7 linked regions of the Homo sapiens genome follow. The protein of the gene in region 1 interacts with the protein of each later gene in a pairwise test. Each region holds a gene or a part of one and is shown in the gene's direction. Other genes may lie near its edges. The genes, in order: MAP3K7, RNF19A, TNIK, PPP5C, ZNF593, ZNF746 and NDUFS6.

What was found.
Region 2: the proteins of MAP3K7 (region 1) and RNF19A interact in a two-hybrid assay, tested with the Homo sapiens proteins (one large-scale study listed by BioGRID and IntAct).
Region 3: the proteins of MAP3K7 (region 1) and TNIK interact in binary tests that used the Homo sapiens proteins (3 or more experiments, as listed by UniProt).
Region 4: the proteins of MAP3K7 (region 1) and PPP5C interact in a two-hybrid assay, tested with the Homo sapiens proteins (one large-scale study listed by BioGRID and IntAct).
Region 5: the proteins of MAP3K7 (region 1) and ZNF593 interact in a two-hybrid assay, tested with the Homo sapiens proteins (one large-scale study listed by BioGRID and IntAct).
Region 6: the proteins of MAP3K7 (region 1) and ZNF746 interact in a two-hybrid assay, tested with the Homo sapiens proteins (one large-scale study listed by BioGRID and IntAct).
Region 7: the proteins of MAP3K7 (region 1) and NDUFS6 interact in a two-hybrid assay, tested with the Homo sapiens proteins (one large-scale study listed by BioGRID and IntAct).

What each region holds. Positions count from the first base shown.
Region 1 is NC_000006.12:90,517,573-90,521,072, reverse strand, and holds part of MAP3K7 (mitogen-activated protein kinase kinase kinase 7), read left to right. Parts: intron 1-1,753; coding exon 1,754-1,815; intron 1,816-2,510; coding exon 2,511-2,626; intron 2,627-3,500. UniProt on the Homo sapiens protein: Serine/threonine kinase which acts as an essential component of the MAP kinase signal transduction pathway. Plays an important role in the cascades of cellular responses evoked by changes in the environment.
Region 2 is NC_000008.11:100,264,954-100,268,453, reverse strand, and holds part of RNF19A (E3 ubiquitin-protein ligase RNF19A), read left to right. Parts: intron 1-3,500. UniProt on the Homo sapiens protein: E3 ubiquitin-protein ligase which accepts ubiquitin from E2 ubiquitin-conjugating enzymes UBE2L3 and UBE2L6 in the form of a thioester and then directly transfers the ubiquitin to targeted substrates, such as SNCAIP or CASR.
Region 3 is NC_000003.12:171,079,406-171,082,905, reverse strand, and holds part of TNIK (TRAF2 and NCK-interacting protein kinase), read left to right. Parts: intron 1-511; coding exon 512-655; intron 656-3,253; coding exon 3,254-3,388; intron 3,389-3,500. UniProt on the Homo sapiens protein: Serine/threonine kinase that acts as an essential activator of the Wnt signaling pathway. Recruited to promoters of Wnt target genes and required to activate their expression. May act by phosphorylating TCF4/TCF7L2.
Region 4 is NC_000019.10:46,388,281-46,391,475, forward strand, and holds the end of PPP5C (serine/threonine-protein phosphatase 5), read left to right. Parts: intron 1-127; coding exon 128-168; intron 169-272; coding exon 273-451; intron 452-1,770; coding exon 1,771-1,852; intron 1,853-2,003; coding exon 2,004-2,066; 3' UTR 2,067-2,695; downstream 2,696-3,195. UniProt on the Homo sapiens protein: Serine/threonine-protein phosphatase that dephosphorylates a myriad of proteins involved in different signaling pathways including the kinases CSNK1E, ASK1/MAP3K5, PRKDC and RAF1, the nuclear receptors NR3C1, PPARG, ESR1 and ESR2, SMAD proteins and TAU/MAPT.
Region 5 is NC_000001.11:26,168,679-26,171,373, forward strand, and holds ZNF593 (zinc finger protein 593), read left to right. Parts: upstream 1-1,229; 5' UTR 1,230-1,305; coding exon 1,306-1,505; exon of another isoform or gene 1,506-1,739; coding exon 1,740-1,802; exon of another isoform or gene 1,803-1,896; coding exon 1,897-2,038; 3' UTR 2,039-2,195; downstream 2,196-2,695. Other genes in the region: transmembrane protein ZNF593OS, read right to left, coding at 2,511-2,657. UniProt on the Homo sapiens protein: Involved in pre-60S ribosomal particles maturation by promoting the nuclear export of the 60S ribosome. Negatively modulates the DNA binding activity of Oct-2 and therefore its transcriptional regulatory activity.
Region 6 is NC_000007.14:149,491,310-149,494,809, reverse strand, and holds part of ZNF746 (zinc finger protein 746), read left to right. Parts: intron 1-306; coding exon 307-606; intron 607-694; coding exon 695-821; intron 822-1,837; coding exon 1,838-1,951; intron 1,952-3,500.
Region 7 is NC_000005.10:1,813,978-1,816,548, forward strand, and holds the end of NDUFS6 (NADH dehydrogenase [ubiquinone] iron-sulfur protein 6, mitochondrial precursor), read left to right. Parts: intron 1-361; coding exon 362-484; intron 485-1,873; coding exon 1,874-1,939; 3' UTR 1,940-2,071; downstream 2,072-2,571. UniProt on the Homo sapiens protein: Accessory subunit of the mitochondrial membrane respiratory chain NADH dehydrogenase (Complex I), that is believed not to be involved in catalysis. Complex I functions in the transfer of electrons from NADH to the respiratory chain.

The sequences.
Region 1 (3,500 bases):
ACACAATCCTTGGACTTTTTTTCTGCTCCCAGAATACCACGCAACACTGATGTATTAAGCTTAATTCTAAAATACATATCAGATACAGGGTGCTGATATAATGAGATATATAATGTATCAGTGATTTAAGAAAGAATAATAGGAATGGAAATCTTAAATTGAAACTTTTTCAAGACACTTAAATTTTTCTAGTAAATCAGGAGGAAATCAGTCATTTTTAATCAGTTTTAGTTTTGTGGAAAGCAGTGTTTATGTGGGAGCGTAGTTTGAAACCACTGTTGGGGTGGGAGAAGAGTTGGTCAGAGAAATAACAAATTAAGTATATTTCTTGTTTAGCCACTTCAGAAAAACACACATTTATGTTAGTACTGTATATGAGCCTTAAGGGTAAGGGTAAGTGCCTTAAGTCTCTACTGTTTTTCTGTATTGCCCTGCAATATTTAATAAACATTACTTTTTCAATATGGAATTCATACTATACTATTTTAAATTGTTCTTTCTAATTCTCCATTTAGTATGAATAATAATGATAACTACCGTCATGTATTGAGTGCTTAATATACGCCAGGATTTGCATGGTGTTCCTCACATGCACTGGCTCATTTGGTCTGATTTCGCTAATTAGCTTTTGGAGTTTCTTGAGAGCACGTTCTCAGTGGCTTTAAAAAAACAAAAACAAAAGCAAAAAGAAAAAAAAACACCTGGATTATCAGTTGACAATAAATTAGAAGATTACTGAGCCAGCAACCCTTCTTGAGTTTTTTTGGATTGCATACAGTGCGTCTGCTGTCTTCCTGACTTGCCTTTATCCACACCACTCCTTCAAGGAGTTATTCGTCAGAAAAAGGCTGAAGAGCTCACTCATTTAGCTCTTTTTTTGTCTACTAACAGTGGGAAAGCAACTACTTCTGAAGTAGAAAAGTCTGTATTGCTTCAGAGTTACTCTGTTTACTTCTGGAACTGTTCTACATAACCATAAATGTTGAGAAGAGACTGTCCCACGCATCTCAGTCAAGTTGTATGGCAGTTTTACCTCTTTTGAAATATAAACAAAAGCATTCTATTCAAATAATTTTATAAAATTGACTGATTGTTTGAATTAATCAACTTAACTGTTTTCGGCATGACATTGAGCCACAGGTTTCAACCTCATTTTGGTTCCTTACTGTTCGTATTTGTAATATACTCTCATCACCAACATCTCGTTTTCTGCAGTGATTCTTACTGGGAAGGGCAGGATGAGTGGTGGAGGTCACATTATAATCTATATAAATTGAAAATGATCCACTGGAAGAGAATGTGTCTCTGCTTTCTCCCTTTCCCTGTTAAGGAACATTGATATTAGCGGAGTTGATATAGCCTTCTATAAAATAAACTTAGCATGATAAAGAAAAGAGATGGGGAGTTTGATTAGATAGGGTCAATTAAGACTGAATTTAAAATATAAAGGTCTCATCACTGTTTTTGTTTTTAATTAAGAGCTTAGAAGCTCTAATATATTGTGTTCTATTCAGTTTATAGCCAACTTAAATTATAGGTATGAGAATATAATTGCATTCTAATATCTGATAATTGAATATCCTTTTTTTAACCTTTAGAATTCAGAAATAGACTCTTCAATTACCAATAGCTGTAACTTTTAATTTACATATTATTTACTTTAGGGAAAAAAAGCATTTCATTCATGCTTTCTTGCTGTTCGTTTATAATTATTTGTGACAGAAAATCAATAAAATACATGCTTGAATTCCAGATACCAATGGATCAGATAACTCCATCCCAATGGCTTATCTTACACTGGATCACCAACTACAGGTAAAGGAGTACTTTCTTATTGAAAGTTGACTTTTTTCTTCTTAGAGAGTTTAAGTTGACAATTGTGTTGCTACCTGTCATTGTATAGTCACTCCTTAATTTATCCTTTTAGTTGGCCTCCTTAAACTTTTTAGAATCAAATCAAAATAATTCTTTTGGTTAAGTTAATCAAACTTTAAATTGGCAGAATCATATTCTTATCTTTTCAGTCATCTTAAAATCCTCCAGTATCTTTCTTTAGTACTGCTAAGCATTACATTTTCACTCTTTAATTTTAGTGCATTAAAACAAAACTCATAAGCTTATTTCTATTTAATACATTTGTGATACATTCTCATGTTCATAGTGACTGAAAATGTAAATAATATACTTCAGTGCCCCCTCATGAGTATGAGGGCTATAAACATCATTTAGTTTGAGCCTGTTTGCAGCCTGAAATGTCATACCAGAGACTACAACTCCAACAATCATGATTCTCTGTAACAGACTGTTAAAACAGCAAGAATAGATTTAAATGCTGAGTTAATTCTGACAAAAGGACACTGAGATTTTCTAGGGCATGGTTTAACACTTATTTTTAAAAGATCATTGCTTTAGTGCTATAAAAATATATCACAGTCTCTGTCTTGACTCTCATCTTAGCTAGATATTGAAATTTGATTTAATTATGTTTTAACATTCCTGATTATTTTCAGCCTCTAGCACCGTGCCCAAACTCCAAAGAATCTATGGCAGTGTTTGAACAGCATTGTAAAATGGCACAAGAATATATGAAAGTTCAAACAGAAATTGCATTGTTATTACAGAGAAAGTAAGTTATTTTTTATGAATAAAAATAAAAATACATTAGTATTTTGAGTTTAAAATATGATAAGGTGCAATGAAAACGTAGTTTTTAGAATTAGTCATTAAGTATACTTTCAACTTGTTTAAGCTTTAAGCACCCTTTTACTAAAAATTTTTTATGCAAAACTCAATCCTTTTGACTATCATATTAGTGCTATGGAAAATAAACTGGTGCTTTATACTTGTTGTTTTATGTTCTCAGAGCTGTTTAGACTTATTATTATAAAGATTTATTGTTTTCTTGTAAATAGATAAAATAATTTGATTTATTAACATTCAGTTGTGCCTTATCTTAGAAACATTTTTGTAGATACATTTTTTCCAGGTGTATGTTTAGAATTGGATTACTTATTAAAAGACTGTATTTCATAACTGAGTGTTTTTCTGAGGAGTTATAGAAACTGCCTTCCTCCCTTTTTAAAGAAACACAGCCTAATTTCCTTACTACTGCATTCACAGTTCTTAAATATGTATGTATCTTCAGTTTTCTTAAGCATGACCTCCATGAAATTTTATACTTAGGTAACTGAATTGTTGGTGGTAACTAAAATGAAGTGATAAGGAAAAAATTTTGGCAACTTTATATATGTATGATAATAGGATTCCCTTCATTAATTTTAATCTAAATAAATGAAAGTTGTTTTTTTCTGAATTTGCGAAAAGCTTTCTGTATGTACTTCAAAAAAAAGAGAGAAAAAATTGTTTTATCATAATTTATTGATACAGTGATTTAAATGGAACCAACCTGGTATTTGAAAGGTAAGCCTAAATAGGAAATTAAATACTACAGTTTGGAAATCGTAGAAGTAATTATCAAACTGCTGGCACTTTTATGTTGA
Region 2 (3,500 bases), on another chromosome or scaffold:
ATCTTTTTAATGAAAGTTAATAGCTAAATAACACATGCCCTCAGGCAAAGAATAATTAGCCAGTTCTTGAATTATTTCTGCTGTAGTTCAAAGCTTTTTTTTTGGATTACTGCTTTTAATAAATACACTATTTTGCAAATTATAACAATCTTGTGAAAGTCCAAACACCAGTGACTACCACTGGCCTCTAATTGATGAATTATATTTCATTAGCTAAGCAAATAGTTCTTTTGTTAAGGGTTAATGGGATAATTTATGAGGTCCTAAGAAGTCTGTTGTTGCCTAAATTAATAGAATCTCTGGATTGAGAAGTAACTTTCAGTAGAATATAGCTAAAAGAAAAAAAAAAGAAATTTTCTTTGGTATCCAAGAAGATCAAAAAAATTAAAACTTTTTTTAAAAAATAAAAAGAAATTAATCCCAACCTTGTACCCAAGCAGAACAAAGGATAGCAATTTTCAAAAAGGGAACTAACAGGCCAGGTGCGGTGCCTCACCCCTGTAATCTTAGCACTTTGGAAGGCTGAGGCTGGTGGATCATCTGAGGTCAGGAGTTCAAGACCAGCCTGGCCAACATGGTGAAACCCCATCTCTACTAAAAATACAGAAAAAATTAGCCAGGCATGGTGGCAGGTGCCTGTAATCCCAGACTCGGGAGGCTGAAGCAGGAGAATCACTTGAACCTGGGAGGTGGAGGTTGCGGTGAGCTGAGATTGCACCATTGCACTCCATCCTAGGCAACAAGAGCAAAACTCCATCTCAAAAAAAAAAAAAAAGAACTAACAAGCTGGGCATGGTGGCTTACTCCTGTCATCGTAGCACTTTGGGAGGCTGAGGCAGAAGGATCACTTGAGGCTGGGAGTTCAAGACCAGCCTGGACAACATAGTGAGACCCCATCTCTCAAAAAAATTTAAAAATTATCTGGGTATGGTAGTATGCACCTGTAGTCCCAGCTACTTGGGAGGCTGAGGTGGGAGGATTGCTTGAGATGGGCAAGTGGAGGCTGCAGTGAGCTGTGATTGTGCCACTTCACTCCAGCCTGGGTGATAGAGCAAGATCCTATCTCTAAAATAAAAAAAGGATCTAAAGGTTGTCATACTGTGTCATAGGTGTTGTATGTACTTTTACTTATTTTAACCCTGCAGCAACCTCGATATTTCGGTCTCTGTGTGTTAAAATATTGAGATTTAGGAAAGTTTATGTAATATATCTTCAGTTACACACAAAGAAGCAGAGCTGAGATTTGAACTCAGATGCATGAATTCTTAATATAAGTTCCATGATTAAGTTTCAGTAGCTATTTGGGAACTCAGTCATGGGGAAACCACCAACTCATGAAGCAATCCATTCTGTTGTAAAATGGCTACTAATTGTTACAAAATTGTTACGTTTGAGTCAGATCTGTTTCCTTTTGTTTCCTTTATTTCTGTTTCTAACTTCTGGGACCCGACTGGGAATAAGGTTGATCTTCTTCTGTAAAACAGCTGAATTTTTTATATTCAACATACATTTTATAATCAGAAAAATAATATATACTATTTCTTAAAAATTAGTTTTGGGGCTGATGACAAACATATTTATAAGTCACATATTTATTTCTGAAGGTTTTAAGTGAGTAAACCTGGACTTTAAAAAATGTTGGGCCATGTGTGGTGGCTCATGCCTGTAATCCTAACACTTGGGGAGGGTGAGGAGGGAGGATTGCATTAATCCAGGAGTTTGAGACCAGCCTGGGCAACACAGTGTGACACCTTGTCTCTACAAAAAACTAAATAATCAGCTGGGAGTGGTGGTGCATGCCTGTAGCCCCCGCTATTAAGGAAGCTGGGATGGGAGGATTGATTGAGCCCGTGAGGTTGAGGCTACAGTGAGCTGTGATCGTGCCACTGCACTCTAGTCTGAGCGACACAGAGAGACCCTATTTCCAAAAAAGAGAGAAAAAATAAAAAATTTCAAAATATATTAGCTGATCGTAATTTTTCATGTAGTTATTCAAAGCAAGGCTTTGCTGAAAACAAAACTATTCAGATACTTAGAAGGGAAAGAGAGACTGTTGTACCACATGTACCTATAAATCATTTATAGAGAAGAGATTATTTACCTCATTGTTCAGGTCATAGGGTACAGTTACAGATCTCCTTTTTTCAAACATGTACCCAAAGGGTTGTAAATGAATGAATTAGTTTTCCATTGAAATAATATTCTGTGGTGCTTTGGGATCCCAACCAGCCTAGGAAAACCTGCTAAGTCAATAAAGTACCCAAAAGCTGAGCCTTCACTTAACAATAAAAAGTAGAGAATGTGGCAAAAAATAGTAAACAGAAAAATTAAGTTGAACCAGAAATAGTGGGATAATGTGATCACTAATCAAACATTGGTGCTTGAGGCTGAAAAATTTTCTAGAAGACTCCTTTCTCTTGGCAGCCTGCCTTTGCAAGTCTGCTCCATCAGTTGTGCCTTTTCTCTTCTTCAGTGCTAAGTTTCCCAGGAATGGGAGTGGGGAGGAGCAGGAATTAGCTGCAGTGCTGAAGGATAATGAAAGGTACCTTGGGAAGGTCTACCATCTCTGCCTGCATGGACTGTGTAGGGAAGTGAGGAGGCTCATTGACAAGGAACCTCTAGTCAATGCTGGGAAATGGGATTCTGACTAGGAAATAGAAAGGTTTCTTGTCCCATACATGCATCACCCACCTCCCACCCCAACCTTTCTACTGTTTTCCACAACACTCATCGTACTTTACAGCCTTCCAAAGGCCAAAGGTGTTATTATACCATGTAATAATAGATTATTTTATAAGTCCCATCTGTAGTATTGTTTATAAGTCATTTTATTTTAGAGAGTCCCCATACTTTTGAGGCTGTTTTGAATTTGTTTTGGAACAGAGGGGGAAAATGTGCCATATTAGCCCTTGCAAACCATGAAAATAAAGATCTCAAAGTTCATATAATTTCACAAGCCAGTTTTTAATCACCGCTTCTATGATGATATCAAATTCTACTTATTAACACCTGTCCTGTACAGAGATTGCTGAGTGAATTCAATCCTGTCTTCTGGTAGCCATTATTTATCATCTTTTTTCTTTCTCTGCCATTTACTTTGAGCTATAAATGAGAGCCCTGGAATTTGAGTCATTTGTCAATATTGTCTTCATAAAAAGGATCTGAGAAAAAAATAATACTGTTTATTCATACTTGTTTATTAGAACTGCTTTTTAAGGTCAATTTTTAAAAAGAAACCTTCCCTAGAAGCCAATTTTTACCATTTAGAGAATATTCTTTAGAAAGAAACCTTTAGAATGCTGGAAGTATCCTGTTGGTGAACCATGTAACTCATAACTGTGTTGAAAATAATAATCTTAATTTCTTCCTCTTTGCTCGATACATAATTACACTACTTTTGATTAAGATTATAAAGATGACTTTTACTCAGAACTTTTAAGCACAAAGTAAAATCCATTAAATCACTGTCTTAAGCAAATTAATAAGGAGCAAATTATTTG
Region 3 (3,500 bases), on another chromosome or scaffold:
TATGGGGCATAAGATAGTTACATTTTGATTCAAGAAGGAGGAAGGGCCTTTCTTCCATTGGAGTATGGAAATGGAAATTCCACTGTATATTGAAGGTGGGTAGGCTAGAGACCACTGCATAGGGGTGGGGGTGAATCTTGGGGAAGAAGAGAAGTGATTTATAGGGAGAGCCAAGAAAGAAGTGGTTTTTCCAGGCAGGGAATAAAGGCAAATTATGCTAGCTTCACATCTGTGCCTAAGGCTCCTATTGACAAGGACTCTCTGCATTAGGTAGTAAATAACTAGATGTATGAATGCTGCTAACTTTATAAAAGAAAACTGTAATTTCATTACCAGAAGTACAATGATTTAATTATTATGTCAGAGCTTCTACATTCATTAGTTTATATTTACCTACTTGCCCATTAGTGTATATTTACAAGTCACAGTTTCTTAAATTTTATAGGGACTCTCGATGCAGAAGATTAAAGTTCATGAAAAGTCAGTCTTAGGGTGCTTCTTAAATTTACAGGTGTAAACCTTCTGGTGGGGACTGAAAATGGCCTGATGCTTTTGGACCGAAGTGGGCAAGGCAAAGTCTATAATCTGATCAACCGGAGGCGATTTCAGCAGATGGATGTGCTAGAGGGACTGAATGTCCTTGTGACAATTTCAGGTATGTTACTAAGATGATGAGTCCCCCAGGTCCATACAGCGGGAAAGGGATCCACCTCATTTCTGCAGAAACAGTTAGTTCTGCCCTTCCCAGCTAACAAACAACACAATAAAGTATAGCAGTATAGCCAGAGTGAGATTGCCCACATTTTGTAACACTGGGAATTCTGACCTCCAAAAAGAAGTCTCTCACCTCTGCATTAAATCTGAATTAGGCAGAGACATACCACAAAGGCTATATATTTATAGCTCTTTACCTCTGTCAGGACTCAGCAAGGATCTTCGGATGTTTTTAAGGTTTCTGCACTCCAGTTATTACCACATACAGACAGAATATCAAAATGCAGGCTTCCTAGAGGGACATTTAGTAAGCAGAAATTTCTTGGTCTCTTCCCTCAAAAATTCTCTTGCTTATAGCCCACTGATGTTTTGGCAGGTGCAGCTGGCACACTGGGTGATCAAGTCTACAAAAAGATTTGAGTGTGGGAATCATTACTGCTATGCTCTGTAGCTTTCTGATTCCCAAAAAGAGCCTTATATAGGAAAAAAAAAAAAAGATGGAGACTAAAGTGAAGGCCTTGTAACAAGTTAAAAATGCAACCTAAAAGAGGGTAGTTTTGTTGAAAGTTTTTTTTCTTTTTGGTATTTGAAGGAGTTTAACGAGTAACACCCGTCACTTCCCCTCTCATTCCATCTAGTATGGAACCAACTTGCTACTGCACTTTATAATCACCTAGGGAGATGTGAAAATCTAGGCTGCACCCCCAGACCAGAGTCAGAATCTCTGGGGGTGGGGTTTAGGCATCAGGAGCGTTCATAGTTTCTGATGTGTTTCCATTGTACAGCCAAGTTTGAGAACATGGATTTATGCTCAGCCATTGTTTCACGAAGAGACAACACAGGGATGCTGGTTTGAACTTTCCTCAAAGTTCAGCTGTACTTCCATTTTGACAAAATGCTTTTGCTTGTCACTAAACTTCCTCTTTCTTTTACCTTTCCACTGAATGCTCAGTTTCATCTCTTTTTATTCTCCCCAAATAAGGTTAACCAGGTAAATTCCTTTTGTATTGCCATTTGAGTTTAATCCCATGTAGTCTTTTGTTCTGGTTAATTGCTGTCCTGATTGCTATACTACCAAATCAAAATGAAAACTGCATATCTGCCAAAAGTGGGAATGCAACCAGAAAATTCACATTCAGACTTCATTATGTTGTTAGTGGCACATCTTCATTCTTAACAGTGTAAGAGTTTCCTTTTCTCATGAGGCACAGATAGGGAAAGGAGAAAATGAAAATAGGAGCAAAAGATTCTTGAACTAACCTTGGATTCATATTGGCATAGAAAGGAGGAAACACTGGCTCTCGTGTCCATCCTAGCTACTGTGATCAATGTGGATTCTAGGCCTTTGGTTACAAAATTGAATACTGACCACACAATGATTCCCTTAGTTTAGGTGATGAATGTGCTCTCCTGTCAAATGCATGTGTAATGCTTTACTAAGTTCTCTTCTGCTGGTATATATTCATCTATAAAATATAAAACATTTTTTTTGGGAGAGGCCGAGGCGGGCGGATCATTTGAGGTCAGGAATTCCAGACCAGCCTGGCCAACATGGTGAAACCCCATCTCTACTAAAAATATAAAAATTAGCTGAGCATGCTGGGAGCGGCACCTGTAATCCTAGCTACTTGGGAGGCTGAGGCAGGAGAATCGCTTGAACCCAGGAAGCAGAGGTTGCAGTGAGCCGAGATCATGCCACTGGACTCCGGCCTTGGCGACAAAAGTGAAACTCATGTCTCAAAAAAAAATAAATAAATAAATAAATAAAACATTTTTAAAGCCTAAGATAAAGAAAAATAAGTATCCAAAAAATAAAACCCATAGAGCTAAATTTATCATTAGTTAGGAAGAGTCATCCCAATGGACATTTTATCTGGTGCAAATCATCAAATGGAGTATATCAAGTTTTGCTACTTGTGTACTCTTCAATATTGTCTAAATATTTTATCATCCTATGAATTCTTTATTCCAAGATCACTTTACCAAACGGAAATTTAAGTTTTCAAGTTTGCATCCTTTTTTTCCTATTTTTGTTCAGTATTCCTTTCAGTGACTTCAGCACCATAAACCTGCCCAGTATAATTTTCTGAACCCATATTATCCTCTTGTTTGTTATTAGGTTATACGGTGAAGGAAAGGCAGGTGCCAAAATGCCCAGTTGCCAACACTTCTTCATGTGATTGATCTAGAATGTTCTGGAACTCTGATCACTCTGTTGAAGAGTTAGCTCTTACTAAGTTCAGCAGACACTGCTTTGCATTGGGAAGAGAGAGTAAGAGCACATGCTCAAATAAGAAACCACCTGAAGATAAAAGACATTGTAATTCTGTGATGTGTCTAAAACACGTAGAGCTATTTTAACCATAAGTTCTGGCAGAAACACCATTTTAATGACAAAGTGCTGGGGACACTGGTTATTATGCCTTCATACACACACACACACACGTAAATAAAATAAATTAGAAATAAATGGAGGTGGGGAAGGAAAAAGTGAGAGCTGTCACAGCAATTTGAAATTAAACCTCTATTATTTCAACAGGAAAGAAGAATAAGCTACGAGTTTACTATCTTTCATGGTTAAGAAACAGAATACTACATAATGACCCAGAAGTAGAAAAGAAACAAGGCTGGATCACTGTTGGGGACTTGGAAGGCTGTATACATTATAAAGTTGGTAAGTCTCAAGACATGGAATTATAAGTTTGGTCTGTTTACTCAATCAGACTTACTTAGTTAGGTTTCACCTAGTTTTTTCTATCAGATTGATGATGCATGTGTGACCAGCT
Region 4 (3,195 bases), on another chromosome or scaffold:
TCCCCTGCCCAACACCCACCCAGGCTGGGCTGTGGGGTCAGCACCTGGCCGGGCCAGGAGGTGGCCTGTGAGTGACCACCCCCGGGGAGGTGGACGAGTCCCTAATGTTTCCCTCGCTCCCCACCAGGGCCCATGTGTGACCTGCTCTGGTCAGATCCACAGCCACAGGTGAGTCTAGGGTGGGGTGCAGGGCCGGCGGGTGTGGGCTGTGGCAGCAGGTGGAGGCAGACAGTCACCCTGAACCCCTGTCTCTCCCTTCTGCCCACCCTCAGAACGGGCGCTCGATCAGCAAGCGGGGCGTGAGCTGTCAGTTTGGGCCTGACGTCACCAAGGCCTTCTTGGAAGAGAACAACCTGGACTATATCATCCGCAGCCACGAAGTCAAGGCCGAGGGCTACGAGGTGGCTCACGGAGGCCGCTGTGTCACCGTCTTCTCTGCCCCCAACTACTGGTATGTCTTTGCCTTTCCAGCCCAGGGCCTCTACCAAGCCACGGGTTTTTGTCTTGGTTTTTGTTTTGCCTTTTTATGATGGAACATTTCAAAGACAGGCAAGAGCAGATAAAAGAACATGACGAACACCCCCGTATGTGTCACCCACCCATGCAGCACCAGTGGGGCCAGCCTGTGAGTGCTGACCAGCTGCCCTGTGTTACAGCAAGCCCCTGGCACTTCACCTTTCTCCCACTGATTGCCCAGCACTTTTCAGAAGGAAAGGGATCTTTTTCTTAACCACAATATCGTGTTTACACTTTTGAGTGCTGGCTGGGCATGGTGGCTCACGCCTATAATCCCAGCACTTTGGGAGGCCGAGGTGGGCGGATCACCTGAGGTCAGGAGTTTGAGACCAGCCTGGCCAACATGGTGAAACCCCATCTCTACTAAAAATACAAAAATTAGCAGGGCGTGGTGGCACACACCCGTAATCCCAGCTACTCAGGAGGCTGAGTCAGGAGAATTGTTCGAACCCGGGAGGTAGAGGTTGCAGTGAGCTGAGATTGCACCACTGCACTCCAGCCTGGGGAAGAGTAAGACTCCATCTCAAAACACACGCACACGGGCAAGAGTAAGACTCCATCTCAAAACACACACACACACACACACACACACACACACACACACACACACACACACACACACACACACACACACACACACACACACACACACACACACACACACAGTGTTGATCCCTTGCCCCCACCCGAATCCTGCCAAGTTCTCTTTCTCCTGGTCTCTCCTAAGTGTCTTTTCCAGCTGACTTCTTCCAGACAGGACCTAAACAAGGACCACATTTTCAGTCTCTTTGCCTGTGAGTTCCCTGTCTCTCCCCACCCGCATCATTTATTTGTTGAAGAATAGGTTGCTGCCTGCTGTACGAGTCACCTGTGTCCTGGACTAGGCTGACTGCATCCCCGTGGTGCCGTGTGACATGTTCCTCTGTTCCCTGCATCTCTGGGTGGGCAAAGCTAGAAGCGTGGTCAGATTCCTAGTGGGGTCTGGCGAGCATCCACCTCCATGAGCTATGCCCTGCCCCTTCCTGCTCCTGCTTCCTGCACTCCCACCCTCTTTTCCCCATCCCCATCCTCCTGCCCCTCCCATTCTTTCCCCTGGATTCGTCTTTCCCATCTCTGTCTCTCTGTCCATCTGTGTCTGTTGTGGCTCTGTCCCTCCCTCTCCCTCTGTCCCTTCTTGCCCAGCCATTCCTTCTCTTAACCCACCAGCCCCACCCAGCCCTGACCACACTGTCCACTCTGCTCCTGTCCCTGCAGCGACCAGATGGGGAACAAAGCCTCCTACATCCACCTCCAGGGCTCTGACCTACGGCCTCAGTTCCACCAGTTCACAGCAGTGGTGAGTCACCCCTCAGGGCCCCTGCCCCTTCCATCCCGGCCTGGGGACAAGGAGGCTGAGACCCTGGTAAGGGGCAGGGGTAGGTTCTGCCGGTGGGTGCTCAGGGGCTCTGTTCTGACTTCTGTCCATCCCACCTGCCCTGGTCCCACAGCCTCATCCCAACGTCAAGCCCATGGCCTATGCCAACACGCTGCTGCAGCTAGGAATGATGTGAGGTGACGGGCGGGGCGGCCTGCATCCCAGGGCCCCTCCAATCCCACCGGACCCAGGCCCTGGGCTAGGGGCAGAGCAGGCCCCGCCCCAGGGCAATGTTGGACCCCCTTTTACTTTGTAAAGTTTGTATTTATTCCCCTTTAGGTTTGCAGAGGGGGTAGGGGCAGAGTCAGGGGCTGGCCAGAGGGTCTGCTCCCTGGACAGAGAGGAAGGAGGTGGAGCAGCTGGGGCTGGGGGCACAGCCTGGGCATTCTGTGGGGAGGCCGTCCTCGGGGTGGGGTGGGGCCGAGTGGCTGCCCTGCCCCCCTCATTTGCATGGCTCCTCCCCCACTCAAGCAATAGGGCCCCGCCATAGGAAGACCCCCAGAGAGAGGGTCAGCAGGGGGGCCCCGCCTGCGCCTCCCCTCCTATAGCCCCATGGTGGGGCTAGGCTGGGGCTCACCCCCCTCCCCAGCTATTTTATGTCTGTAATTAAATATGTTAAAATAAAGTCATTATCGGAAGTCAGCTTGTCTCTGGATGGTGGAGCCGAAGGAGCTGCCCGGGTTGGGTTACGCCTGCTCAGGAGATCCGGAGGGTGGGGAGGCCGCAAAGTCCCGCTGGCCGGGCCCACCCAGCTCTGGGCTGACCGCCCAAGTGGCCTCTGCCTCTGCCCAGCACCGTGGGCTCCTGGGGAGAGTTCTGCCCCCTGGGTGGGGCGATGAGGCCAGCACTGAGTGGAGCGGAGCGGAAGCTGAGGCATAGCCTCATCCTTTGCTGGCTCCAGCAACAAGCATGACAGTGCCGCTCCCTGCTCCCTGCTCAGGGTAGGCCCAGCAGTGGTTCTTGACATCACACGATGAGGCGCGCATCTCCCGTCATCCAGGGAGACCAGAGGACCCTTGTCTCACTCCCAGTTGGCTCTTAGTCACAGGTAACGTTGGATTCCATTCAGGCTGCCCTGCCAGGCCTTGACCCTCCAGAGAGATTGTGTTTTCAAGTTTGAGCTCCTCTGGACTCAGCTTTCTCCAGTGGTATGTGGCACTGGGGGATGGTCTACAGCAAATGACTCCTGCAGGGCCGAGTCCGGGAGTGTTTGGCCCTTTGGAGACCTCCCAGGCAGACATGAGGCGTCCGCGGTCCTGATTGCG
Region 5 (2,695 bases), on another chromosome or scaffold:
AAAGGAGTCGGGGAGTGGGGGATGGAACAAGCTTCTGCCACCTTAGCCCCTTGTCTTGACCCATATTGGCCAAGAATAATGAAGTCATTTGTCTCTAGAGAGGCTTTCTTCCTGGGCCTAGGAGTACTTGAGTTGTTCATCTCTTAGCATGCCTCCAGGAAAATCTTCTTCCATTCACAAAATCCTGAGGTCTGGGACCCACACTGGAGCCCCTGTGACTGTAGTCATACTAGTTGTGTCCTCAGCAGGGCTCCACCCTGTGTCCCTACTTAGCCTCAATGAACTGGAGCAGGAAGGTCCGCAGGCCCCCAGTGGGCACCTTGGGCTTACATTTCACTCCTTTGTCTGGGCTGGAAACTGATTCCTCTCCCCAGGGATACACGTGCCTGTCTCCTTGTTTCCTGGCAACAGACTCCAAAGAGCTGGAGCCCCTGAATTATTGCTAAGCTCCTCTGGCCCCTTCCAGCTGAGTTGGCTCTGGCCAGCCTGGGAGGCACCAGGCTCCTGTGAATGGGGAAAGGCCCTCTAGCCACTCTGAGCATGCAACACCTAGGCCTTTGCTGCCAGCCCACCTCTGGGAGCCCAGGGCTTAGAGAAAGGAGGCAAAGATGGAGAGGTCCTTCTATGAGTACTTGTGAGAGGAACTGATCCCTCTGGAGTCTGGATGCCTGAGGACTGCACTCTCTGGGGAGGAACACCCTTCACGGATTTGGTTGGGGTCAGAGAGAGGATGGAGACTCAAGGGAATAACGGGAGCCCGGAGAAGTGAGGGCTTTTTCAGGGACTGGAGATTATCTCGGGAAGCCCTGGTGGGGCTGGGATTCCAAACTTATTCACTCTCAGTCATTTACTAATTTATTCATGACACAGACATTTATCAGTGCTTTCCAGAGATAAAGCATCCCACCCCCACCGCGGAGTCCAAGGTCTGGGAAACAGGAAGGGATGACAGGAGTACAGGTTGGCACTGATACTGGTTGGACCAGGCCAGGAAGAGCAGGGCAGCAAGACGGCCCCGAAACCCCCAGGCGCACGCACCACCCCGCGCCTCCCCAGCGAGGGCCCGCGGGGCCATGCCCTTCAGTGGGCACACTTCTGGGAGCCCGTCCTGAGCTCGGTCACTGACGTCGACGGCCGCCTGGCGGCGCTCGAGCCGCTGGCCGAGAGTGACGTCATCAGAGGCGGTCCGGCCGAGCCTGCCTAGCCCCCCGGCGTGGCCTGACGTAGCTGATCGGCCCGGAAGTGCTCACACGTGTGCTCCCTGCCCTGCTCCTGGCCCCTTGGCCGGCCGGGCTGTTTCTGGCCATGGGTCGCTCCCGCCGGACAGGCGCGCACCGAGCGCACTCTCTAGCCCGGCAGATGAAGGCGAAGCGGCGGCGGCCGGACTTGGATGAGATTCACCGCGAGCTGCGGCCTCAGGGATCCGCACGACCCCAGCCCGACCCAAACGCCGAGTTCGACCCCGACCTGCCAGGGGGCGGTCTGCACCGCTGTCTGGCCTGCGCGTGAGTCCCGGACGAGCCCGGCCTGGGGCGGAGGAGGGTCCGCGGTACCGGCCGGGAGATGTGAAGTTGAAGCCCCAGGCAGCGCAGAGTCTTCTCTCTTGGGACCCGTGGGTCCGCCCGCCTCCCGTTTCTCAGACCCGGATCCTGGCGTCAGGGACAAGCTAGGGCTAGGGAGATAGGTGCACTTGGGAGACTATCACCTCCTCACTCTCCTTCTCACTTCCATTCCTACAGGAGGTACTTCATCGATTCCACCAACCTGAAGACCCACTTCCGATCCAAAGACCACAAGAAAAGGTATGAAGGAGTAAGGAGAGGATTGATGGATGGGTGCTCAGCAGATAGGGCTCTCACCTGGTCAGCTCCCAACTCCTGTTTTTCTTTCTCCCAGGCTGAAGCAGCTGAGCGTCGAGCCCTACAGTCAGGAAGAGGCGGAGAGGGCAGCGGGTATGGGATCCTATGTGCCCCCCAGGCGGCTGGCAGTGCCCACGGAAGTGTCCACTGAGGTCCCTGAGATGGATACCTCTACCTGACATGGCCTGAAGATGCAGGGCAGAGGAATTGCCCATGGACAGTGACGCAAGGACTAGGCTGGGAGGGAGCGTGCCAACCCCTTTTGCCTCTGGGTTTGGGGAGCGGAGGGCCTCTTCTTGGTGCCCTGCCCCAAATAAAGGAACTGGACAAAGAGAACTTGCCTCCAACTCTAACTTCCAGGCCGCTGTCTCAAACTCCTGCCCTGGAAGGGCTTCTCTACTACTTTCTGTACACCAGGCCTAGGGTGTCTACTCCCCACTTGGTCTATCTCTGCCTTCCCTCTGAGGTCCTAGCATCTGAACTGGAGCACCCAGATGGAGGCCTGATGCAGTGTGGGGTGGCGGGAGTGGGATCAGATTACTCTGTCCTGCTTCTGACAGAGACTGATCCCCAGAAAAGAAGGCTTCTGAGATTGCACCCCCCTCCCGAGTCACCTACCCCCAGCATCCAAGTGAGAGTCTCTCTTCTTCGTTACGGGGCCCGTGGCACCCGCCGCTGCCCCACCATCTTCCAGACGGCATAGCAGGAGCCACCCAGGCCGAGGACAGCTAGCACTGTAGCCACAACTCCTGCCAGCAGACTCCGGGGCTCTGCCTTCAGCTCACCAGCTACCTGCATCTGGAGGTGCACAGAGGGTGTGCCTCAGGGGTCAGTTG
Region 6 (3,500 bases), on another chromosome or scaffold:
CAATACCATGTTCAGGGAGCCCACAGTGTAGGTGTGGGTAGGAAATTATTGTGTAGGGTGATAAGCACCGTGATAAGGGTCTGCATTGTGCTGCAGAGGCCTGGAGTAAAGGCACCCACCCAGACATAGACCTAACATACCCAAGCAGGTGATGGCCAACCTGAGATCTGGCATGTGGTATAGGATAGCCCCACTTGTCCACACATATGGACTCCCAGCCCAACTCCCCCGTGCCTAGGGAGAGAGGGGCTCAATGAAGACAGTGGATGGAATGAGTGATGCCAGTTTCTCTTTTGTTTCTGAAAGATTTCTCCGTGGACGATGGCAGCCACGATTCAGGCCATGGAGAGGAAGATTGAATCGCAGGCTGCTCGCCTGCTTTCCCTAGAAGGTCGAACCGGGATGGCCGAGAAGAAGCTGGCTGATTGCGAGAAGACAGCCGTGGAGTTCGGGAACCAGCTGGAGGGCAAGTGGGCCGTGCTGGGGACCCTGCTGCAGGAGTACGGGCTGCTGCAGAGGCGGCTGGAGAACGTGGAGAACCTGCTGCGCAACAGGAACTTCTGGATCCTGCGGCTGCCCCCGGGCAGCAAGGGGGAGTCCCCTAAGGTAGCCCTGGGACGCCTTGGGGTGTGGGAGCCCAAGCGGCCAAACCCGTGAGCGTGTGGGTGAGCGAGTGTGACACTTGTGGTTCCAGGTGCCCGTGACCTTTGATGATGTGGCCGTGTATTTCTCCGAGCAGGAGTGGGGCAAGCTGGAGGACTGGCAGAAGGAGCTCTACAAGCACGTGATGAGGGGCAACTACGAGACGCTGGTCTCCCTGGGTAAGGCCTGACACTCATTTCTCTGTTAAATGGGATTTTGCAAGTCCTCAGAATTCTCCCTCCACATAGTTGTTTTCATGTCAGTGTTATATAAATCACCAGAAACATTGTTGACCTTGCAAGTTGTTACCTTTTGTGAAGGATGAGCCCTGGGTGATGGAGTTAAAAGCTCCCTTCTCCCTGTGTTGAGTTTCCCAGAATGCCAGTCTGGGAACGGCGGTGGCTTCTCTCCTACGCAGGCCCGGGATGTGGACCTTTCTGTTCTTGCTGACTTGGAGCGGGGAAGGCCCCATCTGCTCTCAGATCCAGTATGTAATTGACTCACATTTGAGAAAGACTCTTTCCTTCAGCCTTCTCCTACAAACATGCGTGGCCCTTACGGCAACATGCCTCGAGGTCAGTGGAGAACATGGGCAGACGGTGCTGCTTGCAGCAGACATTTTCTTCATGCCTCAAAACTTTGCTTCCCTCAGCCCCTGGGGCTACTGCTCTTCTCCTTGTTTAATCCTGCCCAGGAAGGGCCTGGACTCTGTTTCTTCCTGGGCTGGTTTTCTCTTCCTAATGGTTTCTGTGTGACCCCGGAGCCGAGGGCAGTGAGACCTGTTAGAGAGGGCAGGAGCAGGTGCAGACGTGAGGTTGTTTCGTCAGCACAAGTGCACTGCTGTTTAACGTGCACGCTCTGTGGCAGTTTCTTCACCCCGGCACTGTGGACATTTGGGACCAGGTGATTCTGTGTGTCGGCGGCATCCTCTGCATTGTAGGATGTTGAGCAGCAGCCCTGGCCTCTCAGGGCATCTCCAGATGCCAGTCACCTCTCCCCCAGCCCTGGGCATGACAACCAGAATTGTCTCCAGACTTTGCCAGATGCCCCCAGGGAGCAAAATTGCCTGTGGTTGAGAGCTACTGCTTTGTGACAATCAAGAGATTTCATTTCTAGACCATTGTTGGTTTTCCGGGATGACTGTCCCCAGCTTTGACTGGAACGTGGCAAAAACTAACCTTCTGTCTTTCCTCAGACTACGCCATCTCCAAGCCCGAGGTCCTCTCCCAGATTGAACAAGGGAAGGAGCCCTGCAACTGGCGCCGCCCTGGCCCCAAGATTCCAGATGTTCCTGTGGACCCCAGTCCAGGTAAGGGCTGGGAGAAGGCCAGGGAGGCATCAGGTATTGTGCAGGAAACAGAGACGGAAAGGCCAGAAAGGGTGTGATCTTTCCAGAGAGAGTCGAGGAGAAACATGAAACTTACAGGTTTTATGTCTTGAGTTTTTTATAGTTGAGTTTTAATCTCTAACTTAGTCAGCTAATGCTCCAGAAATGAACACTTTCTGTCAGGGAAACAGGTGGCAAACCTAATCTTTTAGGAAGAGACAAAGGCAGGGCACAGGTTGAGGGGAGGGAGAGGAGAACGCTGAGAGGGAAGGCAGGAGCATAGTTGACCCTTAACGCAGGGGCCAGGGGCACCAGCCCCCAGTCCCACGCAGCCAAAAATCTATGTATAACTTTTGACTCTCTAAAAAGTTAACTGCTAGTAGTCTCCTATTAACCAGAAGCCTTATTGATACTATGAACAGTCAATAACACATATTTTGTATGTTCTGTGTGTTACATAGTGATACTTACAATAAGCTAGGGAAAAGAAAATGTTACTAGGAAAATCATAAGGAAGAGAAAATATATTTATTACTCATTAAGTGGAAGTGGAGCATCATAAAGGTCATCCTCCTCATTGTCTTCTTCAGATTGAGTAGGCTGAGGAGAAAGAGGAGTGGTTGGTCTAGCTGTCTCAGGGGTGACAGAAGCAGAAGAAAATCCATTTATAAGTGGGCCTGCATAGTTCAAACCCATGTTGTTCAAGGTCAGCTGTATATTGACAACAAAATTAATCCAAAGCTTTGCAAAGAGTCAGCCTTGCCTCCAAGAACCAACCTTAATTTAAACCAGTAGCAGTTGTAGAGCTACTTTGGTCTACATTGGTCAGCCTTATGGTTTGGTATTATTAGAAGCACACATTTATTTAAGGTGAATCTTGTTACCAGATATCAGCGTCTCAGATTTCCCTGGAGCCAGTCAGCACCTTTGAAAGTTAAGGGAAGGACAGGTGGACACAGGAGAAAAACCAAATTCCTAAAGTGAAGACCTGCTGGGTCATTTGACTAGGGAGACCACATCTCTGCAAGGCTCGACCCCTGATTCCTCCAGAAGACCCGCCCTTGACCGTCCCACCTGCCTTGGTTTTCCCTTTCGTCTGACACTGAGAAAGGTGGTGGTCCGCAGAGGCCCTCCTGTGCGCCACTTGTGTGAAATTAAATGCATCCCCCATGTTCGTCATCTCATCTCAGTCAGATTTGCACTTTCCTAAGGGCAGAAGCATGTTCCGGGCTGGCCGCTTTGCCAGTCGTCATCGGGACATTGACAGTTTAGCTCTACAGATGCATTTTTAAGAATCTTCTAGGCGTCAAGGACAGTGCTGAACACTAGAGGACAGAAAGATGGCTGAGAACAGATACTATTGGGCTGGAAAAGAGGGTTACAACCCGTGCGCGTCCCCAGCTTCCTAGCCTGGGTGGGAGGTTCTGGGTGGGTGGGTTTCGTTGTATTTACACCATGTGTGGAGGCTTCCCTCACTTCCACAGCATCATTCAATGAGAGTAAAGAGGGGCTGGAAATACGCTGGTTGCTG
Region 7 (2,571 bases), on another chromosome or scaffold:
CAGACAGGCCCGAGCAATACAAATGTCCTCAGGTGGGACAGAACGATGTGGTGGGGAGAAGAGGGCGTGGCAGAGCCCACGGGGCACGTGTCAGCATTTGCTGGGTCCACGGGGACAGAAGGGAAAGGCTCTGTGCTGCTGGGATTCTTGCAGTGCCTCTCCGCGTTTGGAACTTTATTCCAGTGAAAAGTAGATGTGTGTGTAGGCCCTGAATTTAATAAGGTCTACAATGATAATAGTTAAATGAAGCATGCACCATAGATTCGTGCTGATGGTACATGAATTTGTGTGTGGTGGGTTAAATTGTATGTAGTTAGCAAGTTTGTGTATTTGTTTACGTAAGTCTTTCTTCTTGTTCCAGGTGAATGAAAACTTTGCCATTGATTTGATAGCAGAGCAGCCCGTGAGCGAGGTGGAGACTCGGGTGATAGCGTGCGATGGCGGCGGGGGAGCTCTTGGCCACCCAAAAGTGTATATAAACTTGGTGCGTAGCTGGCCACCTGTGCACATGTTAGGGCAGCCTGCTCGTCCTCATACTCCCCTTCACTCCCAGTGCCTGTTCTTTCTGTCCTCTTCTCTACCTGCTCCCGAGGCGGCCCTTACGGGGTTCACACTGCTGGCACATTCACCCTACAGCGCCACACTACAGGGCCTACATAGAGCCGCCTGTCCGAAAACCCCCTTTCAACTGTGAAGTGGTGGGCGGCATGTTTCTCTTCTCGGACGCCCAAGCGTCTTTCCTCTCTGGGCCCTTCTCGGTTTGGTCATCATCTCAGCTCAGGCTGCCACACACAGCACCGCAGGCTGGGGTCGAAAACAACAAACACATTTCCCACAGCGCTGGAGGCTGCAGCCCAAGACCACCGTGCCGCTCTGTGGGTTCCTCCTGGGGCCTCGCTCCGGGGCTTGCAGATGAGGTCTCCTCCCTGTGTCTTCACAGGGCCGTCCCTCTGTGGGAGACTCCTCATCCCCTCTTCTTATAAGGGCACCAGGCAGATTGGCTCAGGGCCCCTATGTGACCTCAGTTTACCTTCATCACCTCTTTAAAGGCCCCATCTCCAAATACAGTCACATCGGGGGTTAGGACTTTGGGGGGCACACGGTTTATTTTCTAACAATCCCTATGTAATCTTTTATGCCTGTTGATGAGTGTCATATACAGGACCATTGAGAAAAAAAAGAACACAGGACCGGAGAAAGAGACCGTGGGCTGAAGCTGGGATGTGGAACTGGGGTGCAGGGTGGGAGGGAGGCTGCCACAGATCACTCAGGGACTCGGGCGGCTGCTGACCTGGGGTGCAGGGAGAGGGGGAGGCCACCGACAGTGGAGCACTCAGGGACTCAGGCGGCTGCTGGGCTTGGTGTTCTCCCCAAAGCAGAGTCCTGGTTAAGGGACTTTAACTTCGTTAGAGCTGACATTTATTAAAAGCTGTCATTATCTTGTTGCCTGTCCTGAAAAGGGGACAGTGTAACAGGCATAAATGGTTAAGCAGCCTAGAGTGGGACTGGGCACCCGGCATGTCCCCTCCTGGGCTCCAGCCCTGAAGGCCAAGCCTGGTTGTGCCTCACTGTCGTGTGCAGCACCCACCGCCTGCTCCAGGCCGCTGAGGTGTGGGGAGTGAATGGAGCTGCAGGCTGACAGTGATGTCCCTGGGGGTCCTAGGGGATGGCTGCGTAGCCCGGGGTGGGAGCCTGAGGCCAGGGGCTTCGGTCAGCCTGGAACCGAGATCGACAGTCTGCATTCTTACTTCAGTAGTAACTGCGTATTTTTGTTTCTGACAGTCTAAGTTTTATACATACATTTTCAATGCTTAATATCTAGATTTGAAGTAGAATATGGAAATATGACATCATTCCTTTTGAATTTTTTCAGGACAAAGAAACAAAAACCGGCACATGCGGTTACTGTGGGCTCCAGTTCAGACAGCACCACCACTAGAGCGTGTGGCACGCCGGGGGTCCCGCAGCATCCTGTGAGCATTTCCGCGGGGAAGCTGAGCACGTGAAGCTCGCTGGTTCTGTGCGAAGGGTATTCCTGGTGCTGAATAAAGGGTGTTGCTGTCAAGGCTGACAATTTGTAAGTTTGTTTCTTTCATAGTCTGGGCTTTGGAAGTGAACATCCACGTGGACATGGGTAGACATGCGAGTGGAAGCAGTGCCCGCTCCAGTGAGCCTGAGCTGCCTCCTGCCGGCCGCTGCCTGCCTTACCGGCTGCTTCTGTGTGTCTCCTCTTATCCTTGGGGCCACGTGGGCTGCAGGAATGGGCGGGGGGCAGGGAAGGAGAAGGAGAAGTGCCTCTTGTTTTGCAGATGCAACTGTGCTTCAGAGAGCCAAGGTGGGTCTTGAGGTGCATAGTGAAGGAGGGTGCCCAGGCCTCAACTGGTCCTATGGGAAGGTCAGCCTCTCTCCTGTTGCTGGCTTGCAGAGCTGGTCTATCCGTCCGTCCTAGTCCCTATGTTGAAATGTCAGATCTTAAAACCCAAGAATTTAAGCACTGGTTTGAAGGCATCGAAAGTCACATACTGGCCACATTAAGGACAGTCTATGTTTTTAAAAGAGTAAGGATTATAA